Linked DNA regions of Homo sapiens: region 2 is linked to region 1. Evidence: fine-mapped expression QTL. A gene starts in region 1. The other region holds a variant in brackets. All regions are shown on one strand. Distances are between the middles of the regions.

Region 1 (5,380 bases):
CAACTGCAAGATGTCATAGGTTAAACATACCCTATAAATACTTTGTTCTCAAAATATTTTCATTCATATTCTATGAATAGCCGATGTTTTGGGATTTGGCCATTGTAGGTACATTTTCTTGTGCAAATCTAGGATGATGATACCCACACAAAAGTAATTAACAATCACATCACATTATTTATGTCATAAATTTCAGTTTCATGGTGAGATTTTTACTCAAACAGATCCTTAAGACAAACAAATCTTCCAAAATGTTGAGTCAAAATTGTATCTCTAGATCTGTCAGATAGTTTCATCTACTGGGTTGTACATTATCTCTGCTTTTTATTCCTCTTATAAACAACCTTTTTTTTAACCTTAAAAAATCTTCAGTAATGAAGACACAGAAAGTGGTATCAACAGATTTCCTGACTTACATTTTTGTGATTCTAACCAATAACCACAGGGAGGTTGAAGATTTCACTACTTAATCTCTAAATGTCCATAAATAATGATGCAAAGCAAAACCAGGACCATGTGCAGTTTCTTGTCATTTATTCTGTGCAAAAAAAGTGAGTGGACTGACATTAAAACATAAGGAAGTATGGCTCACAGATGCAGAATTCTGTTTAACTACCTTTCTTTTAGTCTCAGCCTCATGAAAACAGTAAATACGTTTCTGTGCCGCTGTAGGTTTTCCACATCGCCCATAGAAACCTCACCAACTATTAAGCACAATTCTGCCGAAAGGAACATGCCCAATTTCATTTTTTAAAACGCCATGTTTCAGATGAAAACACAGTCTACCAAAGATGTCATATAAAAGAATAACAAAGAAAGGGACAGCATTTTTAGAATTGAATTTCAATGCATAACCCCACCATCTGTCAACCAGTTGTGAAGCAATAATCCTACAGAAACCCTGAAAACACGAACAAGTTTTATCCCTGAATCTATGTATACTAACAGCCACTCTCAGGACCTCAGTACTAATTATGTTCTGTCTGTGGAGTAACCTACAGGAACGACATTTACCACTGGCAAACTTAACCCTGGTGACGAATGGCCCATTTTAACAGACTTGCATTAGGTAACAAATGCAGAGTTCAGTTCATAGAGGTAACGGGGGAAGGGGAGGAAGACGAGGGGGCTCTTGAAATTTGGTTTGGAAATTGAATACAGGAGGTTAATCTCTAGAGGCCAGTCATCCAAACAACCCTCAGTCTCCTCCCCGTTGGCTTCAGAAACAGGATTACAATTTTGGACCTAGACTACGCCCCACCCCTTTTCCCGCTGCAGCCACCGCCACCTTCGAAGTTCTAGTCTTAGCTCTCACGCAGCGGAGCTGCGGACTCCCTCACCGAGAACCGCACCAGGACCCCATTCAGTAGTGAGCGGCGCGCTGGGACTCTGCTACCAGCTCCGCGACGCCGCCGGCAGCCAGCCTGGCTCGGGAGACCCCACCCCTCCCAGCCCGGCCCCCGCCCCCGCCCGGAGCCGCCGCCTGAGTTACGCAGCCTCAGCCCTGACACCTTCTCTGCTTCTTTCCATCTGGATCACCTGGGGCTAGGGGCGGGCGGGAGTAGGGCTGAACCGAAGTGGGATAGGAAAAGCGGGGAAGAACCGAAGCAGTCCCAGCTGCAGAGAGCCAGGACGCCAATGGCAAGACCCCGGCCACACATACACTCTCCTGCGCGTCCTGCTTCTCGGGTTCAATGCCAAGTGGCGACAGGGTGGAAGGAAGGAAGCAGAGGTAGGGTGGCGGGAAGGCCCAGAGTTACTGGTAACGACGTTCGGAGGAGAGCAGGGGATGCTTCAGAAACTGAGAAAGTGAGAAAGTCCCAGACCCCCTCCTTAGCCCCAAGGCTGCCAGCAGCCCGGGTCGCCTTCCCTACAGCGAGGCTCGAGAGACAGGGAGGGTAGTCTGAGCCAAGCTTCCTCCAGGCTGCCCTCCCTGATCTGGCCCAGGGCCCAGAACCCGGCCCCTCTTCAGCCCTGACTTGGGGAGGCTGACAGATAGGCAGCGGACTTGCCAAAGGACTCTGGGGAAGCAATAGGGCAGGAGAGGAGCATCTTGCACGCTCCAGCCGGGCTGCTCACGACTTCCTCTGCCGACACACCCCCAGCTAACCCTCTCCCCCGTCGTCACACACACAGATTCAGAGACACGCGTGCGTTCATCCCTCCCACCAGCCCAGGTCCATCGATTAAAACACTAGTTGATTTCTTCCTGATTAAAAAAAAAAATTAAAAAGTGCAACAACAACTCCTCTCAGGACTCCAGGAGCAAAGAAAGTCCGTCTGCAGGCGCCTTTTCTGTAGTTTCCCAGGAGTTTGGAAATCTGGCTGTCCCTGCTGAAAATCGGAAAGGGGACCCCGGAGGGGTCGAAGGGTGCCGAACTCCCTCCCCACCCCTGCGCCTCTCACCTCCTTAAGTTCCTTGGCCACGTCCTTCAGGTCGCCCAGGACTAATTCCAAATCCTCCACGATGATCTTGATCTGTTCCTTCACCTTGGTTTTGGAGGCTGCCGGCGGTCCCTCGGCTGGACAGGACGAGGAGGGGTTCCCCTTGGACTTGGCTGACATTCTTTGGGGGCAAGCGAGGCAGGTCAGGACAGGCGGGCGAGCGGAGGCTGCTGCGTGCCCCCGTCCCTGGCGCTGCTACGGCCGCTGCCGCCCCGGTCCCCCCACATCTTGGGCGCTCCCTGGGCAGCGGCGAGTGGCTGCGCTCCGCGCTCGGCCGGGCGGCCGCACAGTGGTGCTGCCATCAACTCCCGAGACGCGGCGCTCGGCTCGGGGCTGCAGACGGGCGAGCAGCGCGCCTGCGCCTCCTCCCGCCGCCGCCCGGCGCTCTCGCGCACACGCGCTCGCTCCCCGCCCGCGGAGAGGGGCGCCGTGCTGCCGCGCCAGGGTTGACGCTTGCAGTCCCCTCGACGTTGCCCTTCGAGATATCTCCCAGATGCCACCTTGGCATCAAGGTGGGGGAGACAAGTCCGTGTCCTGCCCGCCCCCTCCTCTTGGTTCTGAAATGTCCCCATCATCTCAGCCTGCTTGCTGTATGTCATCTCACAACTAGCCTGGATTCTTTCTGCTTCACTTGCTAGCAGGGACCTGGATCAATTCAGAAAGAACCACAGTGGGATCAGGAGTTGGAGACAGTCTGTAAAGTGGCCCTACAGATTTATCCAAACCCAAATGATGTCCAGAGGCCTTTAATCAATCTCTTGGTGACCTGCGAGTTAAGCAGACTTCTTAACTTCTGCAAGAAAAAAGGGGGGGGGGGGTGCACATAACAGCTAATGGTCATCTATTGAAACCATGAAATTCAACCAGTGTTCTTGAAAGAGGTACCCTAATCCTGCTAATTCCACAAAGCTAATACCGGATTTATTAATTTGAAGTCCCCACACCCCAAATCCTCTCTGATTGTCTCAGTCATCTTGGCTGTATGTCTTATTTGGCCCAACTCTTTTTTTTTTTTTTAACTGTCCTTCCTCTTTTTGTGACCTATGCTGATTTACATTTTGAGTGGAGTGGGGGAGACATCGTATTTGGACCTCGTGAAGGAGCTGAGTAAGAGATTGCCTCCAACTTCTCTTTCATCATTTTTTAAACCTCCATTTCAACTCTTTTGCTACTAAACAAATAGGAAACAACTTTCTGACTGTTCTGTCAAAAAGACCCAAGAAGGGAAGTTAATAGGAAGCCTTCGGTTCACTCTCAGTAGGTGTCTACAATTCTCATTAGCTAGAATTTTAACTTCCTTAGTTGTAAACCCATGGGCTATTAGCTACTGACCCAGCAGGCTGGCTCTACTTTATTTTCTTCACTGCACACTCCTCCAGATCATTCTTTTAATAGGCTTCCCCTTTTCGTCGTGCCTTAGCAAGGCTCTCTGTTTCTTGCTTCTCACACTCTGGGTAGCTCCACTGTGCTACACATAAAGAAAAGCTTGGCAGCTCTCCTCTTCCCAGTTCTGTAGGCTCTTAATCAATCACTCTCTTAATCCTGGACAATTCATCTTTACAAAACCTTTGGAAGTCATATGTGGAATATAGAGGAAGAAAGAGAACAGAAGAAAAAATTGAAATTTGAAAGTGGTGTCAAAAGAAAACCATTGAAAACTGCATTGAAAAATCAGGGGAAGAAATGAGAAAAGGTGAAAAGCAGATGCTGCTGGAAAGACTTAAGAAGAGATTATAAGAACAAGTCTGCAGCATGCAAACTGGAGAAAAGAAAAAGAGAAGAAATGATTAAAAGTGTGAAATAAGTAATATGCTTGAGTTCTCTGAGGTAGGGAGAATTAGATTTTTAAAACATCCTTTTTCTCCTCAAATTCTTTATTTTATAAAAAATATAACATTAAAATAATTATATCAGGTTTACAGACTCCCCAAAATTGTCAAAACTAGCAAAAGCTAATGGTAGGGGAAAAGAGAAAGTACTATTCTTCTAGATTGGAATTATTTTTGACTCTTAATAGTAGGCAAGTGTGTAAGAAAGCCGCCAAACTCAAAGTTAAGTGACTTTAGACAAGGATATGGGAGAGGAGGAAAGGAAATTGTGATTTCCCTCACAGTGACAAAATAATCCTCCCACAATATAAGAAGATGTCCATGCTACTCTGAATCTCATTCACTAAAGATTAAAAAAAAAAAAACAAAACAGGCTAGGCACAGTGGCTCATGCCTGTAATCCCAGCACTCTGGGAGGCCGAGATGGGTGGATCACAAGGTCAGGAGTTCAAGACCACCCTGGCCAAGATGGCAAAACCCCATCTCTATTAAAAATACAAAAATTAGCTGGGCATGGTGGCAGGAGCCTGTAATCCCAGCTACTCAGGAGGCTGAGGCAGAGAATTGCTTGAACCCGGGAGGTGGAGCTTGCAGTGAGCTGAGATCGTGCCAGTGCACTCCAGTCTGGGTGACAGAGCGAGATTCCGTCACAAAAACAAAACAAAAAAAACTGTTCTCTTCTGATACTCTGATATCCACTGCTGCTACTGAAACAAATAATTCTGACTTAAAATCAAATCATAATTATTGCTTAGAAACACACCACCCACACCCATATCACAGTTCACTCTGAAATAATCACTATCATCTATCTATCTATGTCTTTATACAATATAGAGTTAACTGAATAGGGAAAAGTTAAAATTGGCTTCCAGGCCCAAACTGAGAAAGCTGGTAGGATTGCAGCAGTGGTGTCTGTCCCTATCTTCTAGTCATTAAGGATCACTTAAAGCAAATCTCCATAAAATATGTCTAAAGAAGAAACTTTTATAAAGGGAATTATAAATATTGAGGAGAAGAAGACAGAATAAAAAGGGCCCATGAATATAAATCAAGTGTATTTACTTCCTATTTTTGTATTACCCTATGGAAAAATCTTTCATTCC
Region 2 (5,380 bases), 76 kb before region 1:
CGTATTTTACAAAAATTTCCCAAGCAAGTATTTTACAATATAGGAAAAGCTCAACCGTTTTCTTAAGAGTTTGATAATTACAAGTTGAATCTCTGCATCTGAAAGGTAAGGGGACTATATTTCAGCCTATGGATTTATAATAAAAACAAGTCATGCCATACATATTACAATCAGATGAATTATTTAAAAGGACAGAAATGTAATAATCCTCAGTAAAGGCTCTATTCTTACCTATTCTAAAACTTAGAATCTTCAAAAGTCATCAAATAGTTTCCTAATAGTTAAAAACACAGCAATAAAACCACACATTGAATAATCACTCGTTAATGACTGTATTATTTCTATTCTTGATTCTTTAAAGAATGACTGCTAATAATATAAACACTATCTTAGGTGTCGTCACAAGAGAGACAAATAAATGTGAATAAGCAAAAACTTATCCACCTTCAAAGAACATTTTCAGTACCAGCTACACAATACTGCAAGGGGATGACACTGCCTTCAAAATACATACTTATGTAATTATAAGATATACCATCCTGGTTCTTCTCATTACTGACATAGACCATGACACCTTGGATCCATCAATCTTTTGGTTAATCTCTATCTCATTTTTTGTCTGTTTTTGTTTTTATGTTGAAAAGATGGAGATTAAATGAGAGGTGGTATCTTGGTTTGGGTCCTGAAATAGAAGAACATTAATGGAAAAACTGGTAAATTCCAAATAGAGTTTGGAGTTTTGTTAATATTAATTTATCCATGTTAATGTCTTAATTTCTGACAAGTGTATCATGTAACGAAAATGTTAATAGTGATAGAGGGTGAAGAGTATATAGGTACTCCCTGTACTATCTTTGCAACTTTTTTATAAATCTAAAATCATTCCAAAATAGAAGGAATATTTAAAAATACTGAGAAACCATTAATAAAGATGAGAATGCCATACGAGTTAGAAGTAAAAACAGAAGTTATATATTTATCTTGAAGAAAATATTTATTTACTTTTTCAAAAAGCTACTCCAGCATAAGTATCACCACTCAAAACCTTGCAACAAGCTGACTCGAGGCACTAACAAGGCCCAAAAGTTGCTGCAAAAATTGAATTACAGTGCCCCTGAGAAATATAACACACACACAAAAATAGTTTCAGCTAATAAAGTGGTATCCCTTTCCGAGGTTCTTTGTAACACCTAGAGGAAAAGAAATGTCAATCATTTGGTTTCAACAAGGGAGTATCAAGAAGCTATATTGCTTATTTTTAATCTGTGGCTAAAATGAGTGCTCAAAACTGTAATTAAAAAAAAAAAGAGGAAAGGAAGGGGGTAAATTCTGCCTGATAACTCAAAAATGATCAAGAGAATAGGAAGTGGCAAAGATATCCTGGAGGAAATGTCTTTTTGGTTGATGAAAATATCTATTCCACAAAGCCTATTTAAGCCCTGAAAGTTGTATGACCCCAGTTATACTGGCAGGAACACTCCCATATCTAGAGCCACAATTCTTTCCAAAGACTAACTTTCATTATAAAAAAAGAAGGCAGAAATGAAAGTATAAAACTCTAAATATTAGGAAACAGATATATTTTTAAATGCCCTTGAGCAATCATTTTAAAGCCCGAATCTGCTGTAGCTGAATATATTATTTAATTGCTTGTCATTAGTTCTTGAAAGTAGAATGCACAGTTTAATGTCCATACTGGTCTAGACGTAACAAAATCACACCTTGTGACGAGAAATGACACAGAGTTGGGAAGCAAAAACATTCAGGCTTTTAAAAAACAGTCATTGGCTGGGCACAGTGGCTCACGCCTGTAATCCTAGCACTTTGAGAGGCTGAGGTGGGCAGATCAGCTGAGGTCAGGAGTTTGAGACCAGCCTGGCCAACATAGTGAAACCACATCTCAACTAAAAATACAAAAATTAGCTGGGCATGGTGGCATGTGCCTGTAATCCCAGCTACTCAGGAGGCTGAGGCAGGAGAATCACTTGAACCTGGAGGCAGAGGTTGCAGTGAGCCGAGATTGCGCTACTGCTCTCCAACCTGGATGACAGACTGAGACTCCATCTCCAAAAAAAACAAGAAACAAAAATAAACAACAACAACGAAACAGTCATTTATTGTTATATATCTAGTCTGTATTACCTCTGTCCTGCCTCAAATACTAAAGCAATCAATTATAAGACCTCTAAAGAATCTCTTTATAAAATACATGTATGTGTGTATGTGTACGTCTAAATGCATTTGTTGCATATCCCCATGCTCATGGCACTGTTCCAGGTGCCTAAACAGAGCTTACATTCTGTCAGGGTGGGCTGAAAATGAAGTTCCAATCACAAAATTAATAATTTAATTACAGTTGTGATATGACAC[G/ATG]TTAGAAAGTAGCAGTATATAATATTAAGAGCAAAAAGAGAGTGTTGATCTATTCTGTGGTCACTAGGAGGCTGAGTTCTTATAACCCATTTATTCCTGAGGTTGCAATTTTTGGAATTTTTGCAATCAGACCTTGGTGATGACCTTGAGCAGTAGGATATAAATAACTCCCAGATGCTTAGCGTTCCAATAATGGAACACTAGGCATAAATAAATTGTCTTGAAGGATGGGAAAGAGTTGGTCAGGACAGACCAAAGGAGAGAGGAAGGTGGAGGGCAATACCACATATCTAAAGTCCAGGACAGGAAGGGACATCATATTTTCAAGGGACAGTATACAAGGCTACGTGACCAAAATACTAACTGCCTAGGGGCACATGGTACAAAATGAACCTGGTTAAGAGAGGCCCGGCCAGGGCACATAGGGCCTTATAAGGACTTGAGAAAGAAATCTGGATGGTGTCCTAAAAACCTCAGATTTTCTGATTAAAGCAAGACCAAGCCCGAAAATCATGTTAAGGAGGAAAGAGACATTTCTAGATTTGAATTCAAAAACATACAATCTAGCTGCTGTGTGCAAACAGATAAGAGGTTCCTCAGGGGCCTCTGCAATTGCCCTGCTGAGAATTTGTGTCCTGGCCTGAAGGGAGGCTCTCCAAGAACAAAAAAATGGAATGTGTAAATGTGCTTGGCTCAATTTAAAAAATAAATAAATAAAATAAAACAAAACACTGTTACTGCTGTCTTTTCTTCTAATGAACCATCAAAATAAGAAGCCCTGTTAGGTTCACCAAAAGTAAACTGGTTTCAAAATAAACTCAAAACGTGGCAAGCTCTACCCAGGTATGAGCCTCTGGAAAGGCAGCTGTACTCTCAGGCTTTAAAAGTGCCAGGCATGAATTTCAACCAAAAAGGGATTTTGAAACAGCAAGAACCTATAATATAAAACACAATAGACTCTAAAAATGACTCGGTCATCTCTACCATTACACATGTTAACTACTCATCCAAAAAAAAGAAAAAAAAACCTAATATTCATACAGTGTTTTTCACAACATCCAATTACATTATACACAACTGATAATTTAAATACTCATTAACCAATGAATAATACAAGAATCTCATGACTCAAAATGCTCTTCCTACACCCTTTTTTACTGACACAGATAGCATTGTTTTTTTTTCTTTTCAAGTTCTATTTCAGGTTCAAGGGGCACATGTGCAGGTTTGTTACATGGGTAAATTGCATGTCTCAGGGGTTTGGTATGCAGATAATTTTGTCACCTGGTAATCAGTATAATACCCGATAGGTTGTTTTCCATTATTCACCCTCTTCCCATCCATAGCAAAATTTTTCCTGAAGATAACATATAAATCCACTAAAGTATTAGATGGCTATTCAATAATTATTTAGTAGTAATTTAAATAAATTTCAGAATAAAATCTATATTAAAATCCTTTGGAATATCTATGGGCATTACTTCTTGGCTTTGGTTTCTTTGTTGTTATTATTTTAAATATTTGATATTAATTTAAAATATTTTTAATCTTCCAGGGAAAATATTATTAGAAAATAATATTTAGAAAATATTTAGAAAAAATATTATTTTCTAATATTATTAGAAAATAATATTTACTGTTTCTTTGTTTTGCCAATACTATGATTTTAAAAACCTAGCATTCTTCAAAAGAAAATATTCATGAGAACCTCCTTCAGTTTTTCTCTTTATGGTGTAGAAATGGCGTCAAAGTTGCCTGTCAGAAATTTCACAAAATGCTAACAGCCATACTGAGCCACTCCTTTCTGTTTTCTCAGGAGCCCAAGTACCTTCTCTGTCCTTGGAGTGGTCTCGTCTGCTCCTAATTTAGCCATTTTCCTTCAAACCAATTTTCCTTCTCTGTATTTTACTTCACTCATTTTTTCACAGTCTTCCTCCAGGGAACAAACTCACGATGCAATTGCTAGTCAGCAGCCAACACTTTCTCCCAGCAGTAGCCCTAAGCAGGCTGCACATGCTCAACCTACTCCAGGCCCAACTATAACTACTGGGAAAGAGAGCAGTGAGGTAATTCAGATGACTGATACCTTAAAGAACAAGATTATTTGGAACCATTTAGGAGAGTGTGGGAAGCAAGGACAACCTTCTTTTTTTCTGCAACTGCAACACATTAATGCAAATGCTGAAGATGCTTTCAGTTTATAAAAGCACCCTATAGACCTGTACTTCTTTTATTTCTGAGAAATTCAAACCACCAAGCAGTTATCAAAATGTTTTAACAGCAGAAACCTTTATTTGGTCCCCTATATCGCCACTAAAAGTGGCATTTTAATAGCATATATTAATGTTTGTAAGTTCGAAATTGCAGTATGTGTATCCAATAAATTGAATTACATGTATTTTAACAACACAAAATTTTGCAGTTGAGGTTTATAGATGACTGTTGTTCCTACAGACAAATTACGTGTGGATTCCATTTTGGTTGCAAAGTAGTGACAAATCCTGACTCATAGAAATACAACTGAAAATGCTATGTTTTCTCAAGAGCTTCCCTTAAAAATCTCAGAATGCTTATCAATTAAACTAAACCAGTAGCTTGAAAGAGGATGGTAGAAATATCTTGTTCAAATTTAAAATGGAAACAATAATAACTTGCTTGTATTTTCTAAATATTAAGTATTCAACATAAATGAAATCAATGAATAGACAACTCAGTCTTAATCTCTTTATTTAGCAGAAAGTATGTTTCAAAGTATCTTCTAATATTATGCTTATATTATAAACAACGGCCGGGCGCGGTGGCTCACGCCTGTAATCCCAGCACTTTGGGAGGCCGAGGCGGGCGGATCACGAGGTCAGGAGATTGAGACCATCCCGGCTAAAACGGTGAAACCCCGTCTCTACTAAAAATACAAAAAATTAGCCGGGCGTAGTGGCGGGCGCCTGTAGTCCCAGCTACTTGGGAGGCTGAGGCAGGAGAATGGCGTGAACCCGGGAGGCGGAGCTTGCAT

Alleles and levels. Alleles are on the strand shown, and positions count from the first base shown. SD is a standard deviation of normalised expression in the study named.
For the expression in testis of the gene that starts at base 2,752 in region 1, G is the low allele of the variant in region 2 and ATG is the other (moderate effect, 0.56 SD a copy in GTEx).

The links.
Region 2: its variant is fine-mapped to the expression of PRR16 in testis (GTEx, PIP 0.94).

What each region holds. Positions count from the first base shown.
Region 1 is chr5:120,461,672-120,467,051 of GRCh38, reverse strand. It overlaps PRR16 (proline rich 16), which reads right to left and starts at 2,752. Exons shown (of 2, transcript NM_001300783.2): 1 at 2,407-2,752. The coding sequence starts at 2,565. RefSeq lists an enhancer at 1,877-2,378 and a silencer at 2,784-2,833.
Region 2 is chr5:120,537,852-120,543,231 of GRCh38, reverse strand. The region is part of intron 1 of PRR16 (proline rich 16); the gene reads right to left. Among named protein-coding and RNA genes, the nearest start is that of PRR16, 76 kb to the right of the region's middle. The variant G/ATG (reference allele first, on the strand shown) is at 2,371.